3 linked regions of the Homo sapiens genome follow. The protein of the gene in region 2 purifies or fractionates together with the protein of the main gene of each other region. This does not show direct contact. Each region holds a gene or a part of one and is shown on either strand. Other genes may lie near its edges. The genes, in order: UBL7, OR7A5 and UBE4B.

What was found.
Region 1: the proteins of OR7A5 (region 2) and UBL7 purify together in Homo sapiens (affinity purification with mass spectrometry; one large-scale study listed by BioGRID and IntAct). This does not show direct contact.
Region 3: the proteins of OR7A5 (region 2) and UBE4B purify together in Homo sapiens (affinity purification with mass spectrometry; one large-scale study listed by BioGRID and IntAct). This does not show direct contact.

Annotation. Positions count from the first base shown.
Region 1 is NC_000015.10:74,445,332-74,448,328, forward strand, and holds the end of UBL7 (ubiquitin-like protein 7), read right to left. Parts: intron 897-2,997; coding exon 759-896; 3' UTR 646-758; downstream 1-645.
Region 2 is NC_000019.10:14,832,370-14,836,526, reverse strand, and holds the start of OR7A5 (olfactory receptor 7A5), read left to right. Parts: upstream 1-1,341; 5' UTR 1,342-1,453; intron 1,454-2,434; exon of another isoform or gene 2,435-2,550; intron 2,551-3,215; exon of another isoform or gene 3,216-3,376; intron 3,377-4,157.
Region 3 is NC_000001.11:10,102,345-10,105,999, reverse strand, and holds part of UBE4B (ubiquitin conjugation factor E4 B), read right to left. Parts: intron 3,053-3,655; coding exon 2,908-3,052; intron 485-2,907; coding exon 256-484; intron 1-255. UniProt on the Homo sapiens protein: Ubiquitin-protein ligase that probably functions as an E3 ligase in conjunction with specific E1 and E2 ligases. May also function as an E4 ligase mediating the assembly of polyubiquitin chains on substrates ubiquitinated by another E3 ubiquitin ligase.

The sequences.
Region 1 (2,997 bases), on a different chromosome or scaffold from region 2:
GGGGGTTGGTGCCCTCTCTTCAATATTAAAGCTGAGCCCTGTTCATGTTGGTGTTGTTTTTTAGTATTGCTATTTAACTGCTCTTGTATTTATGCCTTCAGGACAAGGAGGGCCCTACCTCCTGGCGAAGCTCTGAGGCCTGGATTCTGGAATCATTACAGAACAAGCATCAAAAAATGCTTGGTGAGAATAGACTGGTGGGGTGGACAAAGAAATCTGTGGAAGCCATTGAGAGAGAGAGAAATGTGGAAGGCAAGCTGCCTCCATGTGCTTCCCCTGAAAGTCCACCCAGCCACTCCATAGACTGGACATCTCGGAAGCATAAGCCTCTTCTGGGCACAGCTGTAATCCAGCAGCCACCCTGAAGATTGGGTGATAGCTCTGCCTAGACTTCGGCACATCCTGAGGCTCCCAAACTCCAAAGCCCCAGAGAGTCTGGGGGCTACGGCTGGAAACTTCTCCCAGAAGTTAACATGGGTATCTCACAGCATCCCATGATGTAGGGTCTAACATCCTCCATCCAGGGCCCAGAACTAGGGGCCAGCCCTGCTTTGATGCCACAGCATCAAGACCAGCACACCTTGTTTGCCCCACTGCCTCCACCAACTCAGATCAGCCAGAAAGGTCAAGAACTGGACAAAGCAGGAGAGTTGACCATCAGGTATATTGGGGAAGGGAGAGATGGAGGCACCTTCATGAGTGCCTCCCAAGGGCAGTAGCCTCTGCAACTTGCTGGGGGTTCAGGGGAAGCAGGGAGTTCATGGGGCTCCTCCAGCAAAGATGAGCTCCAGGGCTGCTTGGATGTCCCCACCGGTGGCCTGCAGGGCCCGCAGGCTCAGCTCATCGTCCTGGATGCCCATGTCACGTAGCTGCTGCAGCTGGGGCTGCCACTGGCTCTGTGGAAAGATAGGAATGGGCAGAAGCTGTTAGCTGGGATCCAGTGAAGACTCACTTAGGTCTGTGCTTTCCGGGGAAGGAAAGGAAGATGGGGGAGTCCTCAGCAAAGCTGCTGATGCTGAGTTCCACAGAACACGGTGCTTCTAGGAAGACTAAAAGATAGGCTTGAGGGTTAAGAGAACAAATCCAAAGTTTTACAATAAAAAAAGGAAATTCTTGGCATAAGGATCAAAAGAGAATGTACAAATTATTCACTGTCTGAATTCCAAGAGGCTAAATTACTTTCTTTCTCTTGCTATGTGTACACACACAACAGCAAGATTTTGCTCTTTATGTGATGAGTGTTACAGATTTTTTTCCCAGTTTGTTAGCCTTTGGACTTTGCTTCGGTTTTTTGTTTGGTTTGGTTTGCCACGCAGAAATTTTCACCTTTTTTTAAATGTCTTAAATTTTTGTGGTATATAGTAGGTATATCTATTTGTGGACTGTAAGAGATGTTTTAAATTTTTCGCTTTTACAAACCCAAAATGCATAACTTTTATTTAATGGCTCCTGGATACTGAGTTTCAGCCAAGAAAGCCCTTCCCTACTATAAGGATTTGAAGAAATTCACCCATATTTTCTTCTAGTACTTTCATAGCTTCATTAATATCTCTATTTCATGACAGCAGGGATGAGCACAATTTAGGGAAAACAACGTGTTCACATGTGGGAAGAAGGCAATGCAAAGGGGAAGAAAAGCAAAGTCAAAGAGGCAGGCAGTGATGAGAACATGGAGGGCTTAAAAAAAATGCACACAGATCAATTTGAATTCATTTTACAGGCCAGGTGGAACCAGTGAAAGCTTCTGAGCTAGGGAATAAAGTAAACAGGCATCTAGCAACAGGGGAGATGCAAGAATGGAGAAGACAAGTTGTTCACGAATCCTGCTTCTGTTCCCTCACTGTCTACAAGGACCACATGGAACAGTGAAAACCACACAGGCTTGAACCCTATCGTTACGACTTCATGGCCTTATGACCCCAGACAAGTTCCAGGGATGATGCTCTACCCATAGGCTTACTATGTGGAATAGAGGAAAACAGACGTGAACCAAACTGCTCATGCATGGAGCTGTGAACTACAATGCTGGCCCCTCAGGTATTCCACTTAGCTGCTAGGGTGACCTTTCTCCTCCTTAAAGCCTCCCATGGGCCAGGTGTGGTGGCTCACACCTGTAATCCCAGAACTCTGGGAGGCTAAGGTGGGTGAATCGCTTGAGCCCAAGAGTTCAAGACCAGGCTGGGCAACATAGGGAGACCCCCCCATCTCTACAAAAAATACAAAAAATTAGCCAGGCATGGTGGTGCATACCTGTAGTCCCAGCTACCCGGGAGGCTGAGGTGGGAGGATCACCTGAGCCCAGGAAGTTGAGGCTACAGTAAGTTGTGATCACACCACTGTACTCCAGCCTGGGTGACAGAGTGACACCCTGTCTCAATCAATCAATCAATCAATCAATGCCTCCCAGGGATCCCTGGTGACTGCTACATCAAGTCATCAAGTCTAATCTCCGCAGGTTGGCATGCAAGCCCCTCTCGTAGGCTCCTGCTCTTTCTCTGGCCCCATCTGCGGATCTTCTACACTGGACACTGCATCCTAGCCTTGTAGTTTTGAGTATGTCACATATACCTCCACACATGTGCACAAACAGGTAGCTGTCTTCACCTGGAAATCAGCCCCTTCCTACCTCAAACCCCCTTCCCTGGCTAGCTAACTTCTAACTAATTCTTCTGACAATCAGCTTAAATACCCCTCTCTCAGAAAAGTTTTGTCTGACCTAGGCCCTTACTTCAAGCAGCTGGGTTTCTTGCCTTGTTGCTCCCCAGCTCAGTGCCTGCCTGGTGCCCCTCCATGGCAGGGATGAGAACCAGCTTGCCACTAGCCCAGCATCTGGACTCAGGCCTAGTATACACATGCTCAGTCAATGATCACTGAATGAATGAATGAAATGGCCATGATTATCTAAGCCAGGTGGTCTAGGGAGTCAGGCCATGGTCACTAGGGGCAGGAGAAGCCTAGTGACCACTGTGTATGGTCTGAGAGTGTGCCCTTGCTAGG
Region 2 (4,157 bases):
CTGGGACTACAGGCGTATGCCACCATGCCCAGGTAATTTTTACATTTTTAGTAGAGACGGGGTCTCACCGTGTTGGCCAGGCTGGTCTCGAACTCCGGCCTCAGGTTATCTGCCTGCCTTAGCCTCCCAAAGTGCTGGGATTACAAGTGTGAGCCACCACATGCAGCCTCATTCCTGTTTTTAAACTACTGGCCTCAAGCATGAGAACTGAAAACATCATGAAGGAGTTTCAACCATTCATCCCTTTCTTGGTTTATAATGTTGAGCAGATCACTGAATCTTTCTGAGCCCCATTACTGCATACGTAGAATGATGCTCATGACAGTACCGACCACATAAAATAAACATTTATAAACATTAGATAAAATAATCCTTATAAGGTGCCATTCTCAGGACAATGTGCATAAAAGGGTCTAAATATATCTCTTGTAATTGGTACACATTTTATCAATGAAGAACTAAAAGACAGTTCTTAATTTGTCTGACAAGCATTAAATTACAAATTGTTTTGGTGAAAACATCATGAAGCCAAGGAGTACAGCCAAGCCATGATTTATATCAAAGGAACACAGTACTCCCTCTAGTTGAAGAATGAGATGGAAATTTTCAGATGTTGGGCCAGGCACAGTGGCTCACGCCTGTAATCCCAGCACTTTGGGAGGCCAAGGCGGGTGGATGACCTGAGGTCAGGAGTTCGAGACCAGCCTGGCCAACATGACAAAACCCCTTCTCTACTAAAAATATAAAAATTAGCTGGGCATGGGGGTGAGCACCTGTAGTTCCAGCTACTCGGGAGGCTGAGGCAGAAGAATCACTTGAACCCAGGAGGCGGAGGTTGCAGTGAGCTGAGATCACACCACTGCACTCCAGCCTGGGTGACACAGTGAGACTCCGTCTCAAAAAAAAAAGAGAAATTTTCTTATGGTATCAGAGGCTGTATTCCCACAATAAGTCGATGCTTTGGAGATTTAAGGGGAGTAGGCAAGATGGGTTTCTCAGTCTTAGATGTGAAGAAAACTTTGTCTCAGGATTGGGACAGTTGTTACAAAGTTAGACTTCTGGAAGAAAGGAGAGTTCATGTTGAAAGAGTAAGAAAGACTGGTTCATCCAGTCTCTTGGGAACAGAGAATCTGCAGGATTTTTTTTCTTTCTGTGCAAAACAATGTCCCACAGGGACATAATGTACTCAGGGTTTCAAATAACAAGAAGAAATGTGCCTATTGAGCAGATGTGGGAAGCTATAAATATTTCATCTGCTGTTGTCCCTCAGGCACCCCTGGGTTGAATGGAATATCATTGTTTCTTTTGAAGTCCTAAGTCTAGCTCAGAGACAGATGCTTGACTCTTTCCTGCTGCCTAGTCTGCTGAGCAGAGCTTCAGTCTCCACCATCAATCATCCAGTGAGGAATTTGCACTTACACAAGGAACTCTTCCTCGGAGAGATCCCCTCCTGGTGAGTTGGAGAGCCCAGTGGGAACTGCAGGAAAACAATAGATGGAATAGATGCAGAGAATATTTACCTGAGATCACCTGAGAGCCAGTCCAGCCTAGCCCAGAGCCAAGATATTGCTGCGGTTATTTGCTTGGTTGATTAATTAACTAAGTAATGTCTCGTTTTATGATGCAAAAAAAGAAAAGTGAACACTGAACTAGGCAATGCAAGGGTGACGACTATTGACATTTAGTGAAGGTCACAGAAGCCCAATTAGAAGGAATAGGAGGTGTAAAATGATTTTTGTAAAAGTACAACATACATCTTTGTAATTAAGGGGAGTAGAGAAATCGTGTATTGGCTGTGGAGGGATATACAGTCATGTAAAGACATTTCCTTTTTACTTTTAAAATGGAGCATATTTCAGTTTGATTCTATGCCCGTGAGAAAAATCCAGATGAACGGATTGCTTGCAAATACCATTTTGCAACAGCAGTTCATAATGCGTATATTTTGCAGGATTTTCTCTTACGCTAGGTATTCAGATAATACAAAATATTTAATAGGTGAGAGACTATGTACTAATGAGCTGTACTTGCATTTATTTCCTCACTTGCGTGGCTGAATATATTTGTGTGTTGTTTAGGCCTGTGATTTGATGCTTCTAAACAACTCACAGTGTATAGGATAGACTTTATCAAAGAGAGTGATCTAGCCCAGAATATCAATAGTGCTGAGATTGAGAAACACTGTGGCGAGGAATATCTGCTGGCTTCCTGGTTTTTGGAGTTTTGTTGTTTGTTTGTTTTTTCTTTGAGACAGAGCCTCACTCTGTCGTGCAAGCCTCTGTCCATGCTACTACTGGAATGCAGTAGCATGATCTCAGCTCACTGCTGCCTCAACCTCCTTGGCTCCGGTGATCCTCCCACCTCAGTCTCCCAAGTAGCTGGAACTACTGGTGTGCACCACCATGCTAGGCTAATTTTTGTATTTCTTTTGTAGAGATGGAGTTTCACCACGTTGTCCAGGCTGGTCTCGAACTCCTGGGCTCAAGCAATTTACTTGCCTCAGCCTCCCAAAGTGCTAGGATTGCAGACGTGTGCCACCACGCCCAGCCTGTATGTGTTTTTAATATTTTATCTGTCTGGAGATTGTTTCCACAAGACATTATGACACTTATTTCTGTCACCAAAATTAGAGTACCCGTTTGCCATCTGTTTAAAAATTCCAACACAAATCTATGACAGCTGAGAAAGTTCCCCACTCCATCCCCGCTCAGGCTGATGGACGTGAGATTTCTTACTGTTTTCTTAAAATATTACTGACTTTGAGCAAATATTCATATATTTGATCAAGATCTTGATTGCCTTATGTTTACTATATGCCCATTTTTATACAGTTACCAGCGTTTAAAATTATTTTTTTCAATGATTCTTTTTCAGTTGACTTTTGGGGAAATTTATTAGCCATAAAAAGTTTAAAATATTCTTTAGTTAAATATATACCTATCATCTTACTTCTGCAATTATTGCCTTAGTTAAGGTGATTTGCCCACCCACAGATTTCATATGTAGTTTCCCTGTTTTCATGGAAAAGGCATTGTTTACTTTTTTTTTGAGACGGAGTCTCGCCCTGTCAACCAGGATGGAATGCAGTGGTGCGATCTTGGCTCACTGCAACCTTCGCTTCCTGGATCCAAGCGATTCTCCCACCTCAGCCTCCTGAGTAGCTTGGACTGCAGGCAAGTGCCACCATACCCATCTAATTTTTGTATTTTTGGTAGAGATGGCGTTTCGCCATATTGCCCAGGCTGGTCTTGAACTCCCGACCTCAAGTGATCCACCCACCTGGACCTTCCAAACTGCTGGGATTACAGGCATGAGCCACCGTACCTGGCCGATATTGAAGTTTTTAATTCCTCTGACTTTGTGTAAGATGTGTGAGGTAGGTGACCAATTTTATTTATTCCAGACAAATAGCTGTTTATGACAGCATTTATTTAAATATCCAATCCTTTCTAACTAAATTGAAATACAAGCTTGCTGTATATTAAATGCCCATGTATACTGAGAACAAAGTCCTGATTCATTCAGCAAATAATAACTGAGCATCTGCTCTGTGCAAGAGTTTTTTATGAACAGTGTATGCCATATTCTTTTATATCTAGATTTTTGCCAATTTATTAATTTATGTTGATATGATTAAATTATTATTATAGCATGTCAGTTAATTTTCAATACTTCAACAATTTTATTCACTACAGTTGATTATATTTAACCTGGTTTTATTCTCCTGCCATTCTTTCTAATTTTATAATTCTTTTTTTAATAATGCATACATCGTCACATCTTTTTATGAAAATATGAAGGTAGCCAGGCACTGTGGCTCAGGCCTGTAATCCCAACACTTTGGGAGGCCGAGGTGGGTGGATCACGGGGTCAGGAGATCGAGACCATCCTGGCCAACATGGTGAAACCCCGACTCTATTAAAAATACAAAAATTAGCCAGGTGTTGTGGCTCATGACTGTAATCCCAGCTACTTGGGAGGTTGAGGCAGGAGAATCGCTTGAACCCAGGAGGCGGAGGTTGCCAGTCAGCCGAGATCGCGCCACTGCACTCCAGCCTGGTGACAGAGCAAGGCTCCATTAAAAAAAAAAAAGAAAAGAAAAAAGAAAGAAAGAGAGAGAGAAGGAAGGAAGGGAGGGAGGGAGGGAAGGAGGGAAA
Region 3 (3,655 bases), on a different chromosome or scaffold from region 2:
ATTCGAAGAATGATGTAGTATACACAGCCAACTGCTTCTAAAATTTCATCTAGCAATATCTTAACCATAGAGAGCCAAAAAATAATAATCTAGAAAAGAGAATTCCACTTCCAATGACTAAATCCACCTCCCCAAATATGATATATGCCATACCCTGTATGACACTGATTAACACTGTCAACAAACATTCCCTTCTCCTACGTAGTTCACAGTTATTTTACTACCAGTAAGATGTGCAAAGAGAACCACACTGACCTAGACAAAGAGCTGGCACCAAAGGAAGCCACGCTGCAGAACATGGGGCTTGTTCCTGGATTGGAGCCAGTGTTTAGCAAGAGATTTCTGTCTGGTGACCGTGCTGCTGCAGCAATTGGCTGTGATGTGGCTGTCAGACTGGCAAATGGGTTTTCATCTCTGGTCTGAGTGGACATCATTAGCACTTCCATTAAAATCTGGCCAATCAAGTCCTTAAAATCGGAGAATACTGTTGGAAAGGCAGAACAAAGAACAGGTTACACACAGTTCGAACACAGGTTACACAGCCCTTGAATAAGCCAGCTGACCCCAAATGGTTCGATGCAGTATCCTGGATTAGATTCTGGAATGGTAAAAGGATATTAGTGGAAAACCTAAATAAAGCCTTGTGTTTAGTTAGTAGTAATTTCTTAGTTTTGACAAATGTACCATGGTTATATAAGATATTAACGTCAGGGGAAACTGGGTAAAGTATATATAGGAACTCCCTGCACTAACTGAAACTATTCCAAAATTAAAAGTTTATTAAAAAGAAAGTTGGGGTACAGTCATTGAGAGTTACCGCTGATGTATATTAATTGTAAAAAGAAGCTACTCCCAACTATAGAGGTTACTTTATTATACTACAAATGCAACTGGGTTAATATTTCTTAGTCTAGATATGTTTTATAGATAGTAATAAAACTATTAAGTCCAAGGTTCAAAAGATTTTATGAAGGGTCCAACATCTAGTCACCATGTGGCTTTCAGGAGCAAATGCTACATTCTAGCTTCCTTCTTATTCTTTGCAGCTCCCAGTTGATTTACTGTTGGTCTTTAGATACATTTTAAATACCACTAAACAAAAGTTTTAACTCATGGAAATTTTATCTGATTTGGTTATTTAAAATTGCCACTTACATGTGTAAGACAGAGTTGCCACTTAACATGTGTAAGACACTTGTTTTAACAAAAGTTTTAACTCATGGAAATTTTATCTGATTTGGTTATTTAAAATTGCCACTTACATGTGTAAGACAGATTTGCCACTTACATGTGTAAGACAGAGAATCTTAAGATTTATAATAAGAATAACAAGTAGCAGAGTTTCAAATACATGGTCTGCTCCATTAGCAGAGTTAATAAGTAAAATCAGAAATAGTCTTATCTATCCTCCAGAAATACAAAGGACTTTTTTTTTCCCTCCTCAGAAGATAGGCAGCATAGAAAAGAGAAAGGTGATCTCCTTGATATTCACGCATCCATTTAAAATCTATCTATTGAGGGACTATTTTGTGCAAGATATCCTTCTAGGGATACATCAATGAGTAAAACAGACAAAAATCCCTACCATGAGGGAAGTTACATTCCAGTGATAGGCCAAAAAAACCACTCCAGCACACCTCCCATACCTCTTCTGCGTTCCAAATGACTACTGTAAAGAAAAAGGATAGTGCCCTATGATGCTGATATCTTGCTAAGAGTTTTATTATTTTGTTACAAGCTTGGCCTCTTAAAGTGGAATATCAGAAACACAGCAAAATGTCATTATGTTCTATCTTGCTAAGCAATTTAACCAAATAGACCAATTCCACCGTCTATACATGGCTTCATAGGCACTTAAAGCAGGTATAGCTCATACAGAACACTTCTCTCAGGATCCCTGGAGACCACCCACTATATCTATACTTCATAAGAGGAGGTAAGGCCAGGCTCGGTGGCTCAAGCCTGTAATCCCAGCACTTTGGGAGGCCGAGGCAGGCAGATCACGAGGTCAAGAGATCGAGACCATCCTGGCCAACATGGTGAAATCCTGTCTCTACTAAAACTACAAAAATGAGGCCAGGCACGGTGGCTCATGCCTGTAATCCCAGCACTTTGGGAGGCCAAGGCGGGCGGATCACGAGATCAGGAGATCGAGACCGTCCTGGCCAACATGGTGAAACCCTGTCTCTACTAAAAATACAAGAATTAGCTGGGTGTGGTGGCGCATGCCTGTAATCCCAACTCGGGAGGCTGAGGCTGGAGAATTGCTTGAACCCAGGAGGTGGGAGTTGCAGTGAGCCAAGACTGCGCCACTGCACTCCAGCCTGGTGCCAGAGCAAGACTCTGTCTCAAAAAAAAAAAAAAAAACAAAAACAAAACAAACAAAAAAAACTACAAAAATTAGCTGGGCGTGGTGGTGCACGCCTGTAGTCCCAGCTACTCCAGTGGCCGAGGCAGAAGAATCACTTGAACTCGGGAGGCAGAAGTTGCAGTCAGCTGAGATCATGCCACTGCACTCCAGCCTGGTGATAGGGTGAGATTCCATCTCAAAATAAATAAATAAATAAATAAATAAATAAATAAATAAATAAATAAATAAAGAGGAGGTAATGCTCTAAGCACCTTCTTACTACAAAGAGAAAAACTTCAACCCTGAGAAAATGGAGACCATTAACCTATTTACATAGTATTATAGAAATCATGGAAATGAAAAATAAGTTATCGATAAGATCAGTGGAAAGGGAAGAAAGTGGCTAAACAATTGTGTCCTCATCAAGAAGTATCCCTGTCATCAAAAATACAACCCAAGAGCAAGATGGAGTGAATGTGGATAACAGAGGGCAAAGATCTCACATCTTATTTTCTTGTCGAGTACTCTGCAGTAAGACTGCTGAGCTAGATTCCTACCTTCTTTTGGGTTCTGCTTAAACTGTGCAGAAAGAGAAGAAAGAAAGATGACATCTCTGTCCCGGTCCTTCCAAGAGACACGGAAGATCTTACAGACCAGCTGTAAGGCCTGCTCTTCAGACACTTCAGGGCCCGAGGAAGGCTCCTGGTGAAGAAGAAGATTTGCAGGTTAATTTCAAATAAGAGGTATGAGTTAGGTGTTTCAATAGGAATACGTTATTCTGATTTAATTCATTATTAGTGATGATATTTTAAAAATGCATGAAACCATTCACCCACTGATTAGGGGAAAAGTAAGCCTATTCCTATAACATCAAAGTTACAACATCTAAGTCTCATGAGCTTACAATACAATCTATGGGGAGCATAAAAGAGCAAAGATGGCCGGGCGTGGTGGCTCACACCTGTAATCCCAGCATTCTGGAAGGCCGAGGCCAGTGGATCACCTGAGGTCAGGAGCTCAAGACCAGCCTGGCCAACATGGTGAAACCCTGTCTCTACTAAAAATACAAAAATTAGCCAGGCGCGGTTGCGGGCCTGGCTACTCGGAGCTACTTGGGAGGCTGAGGCAGGAGAATCGCTTGAACCCAGGAGGCGGAGGTTGTGGTGAACCAAGATCACGCCATTGCACTCCAGCCTGGGCAACAGAGTGAGGCCCTGTCTCAAAAAAAAAAAAAAAAAAAAAAAAAAAAAAAAAAAAAGAGCAAAGTCATTATCAAAAGTCACCAAGGAAAAATATGTGACAGAG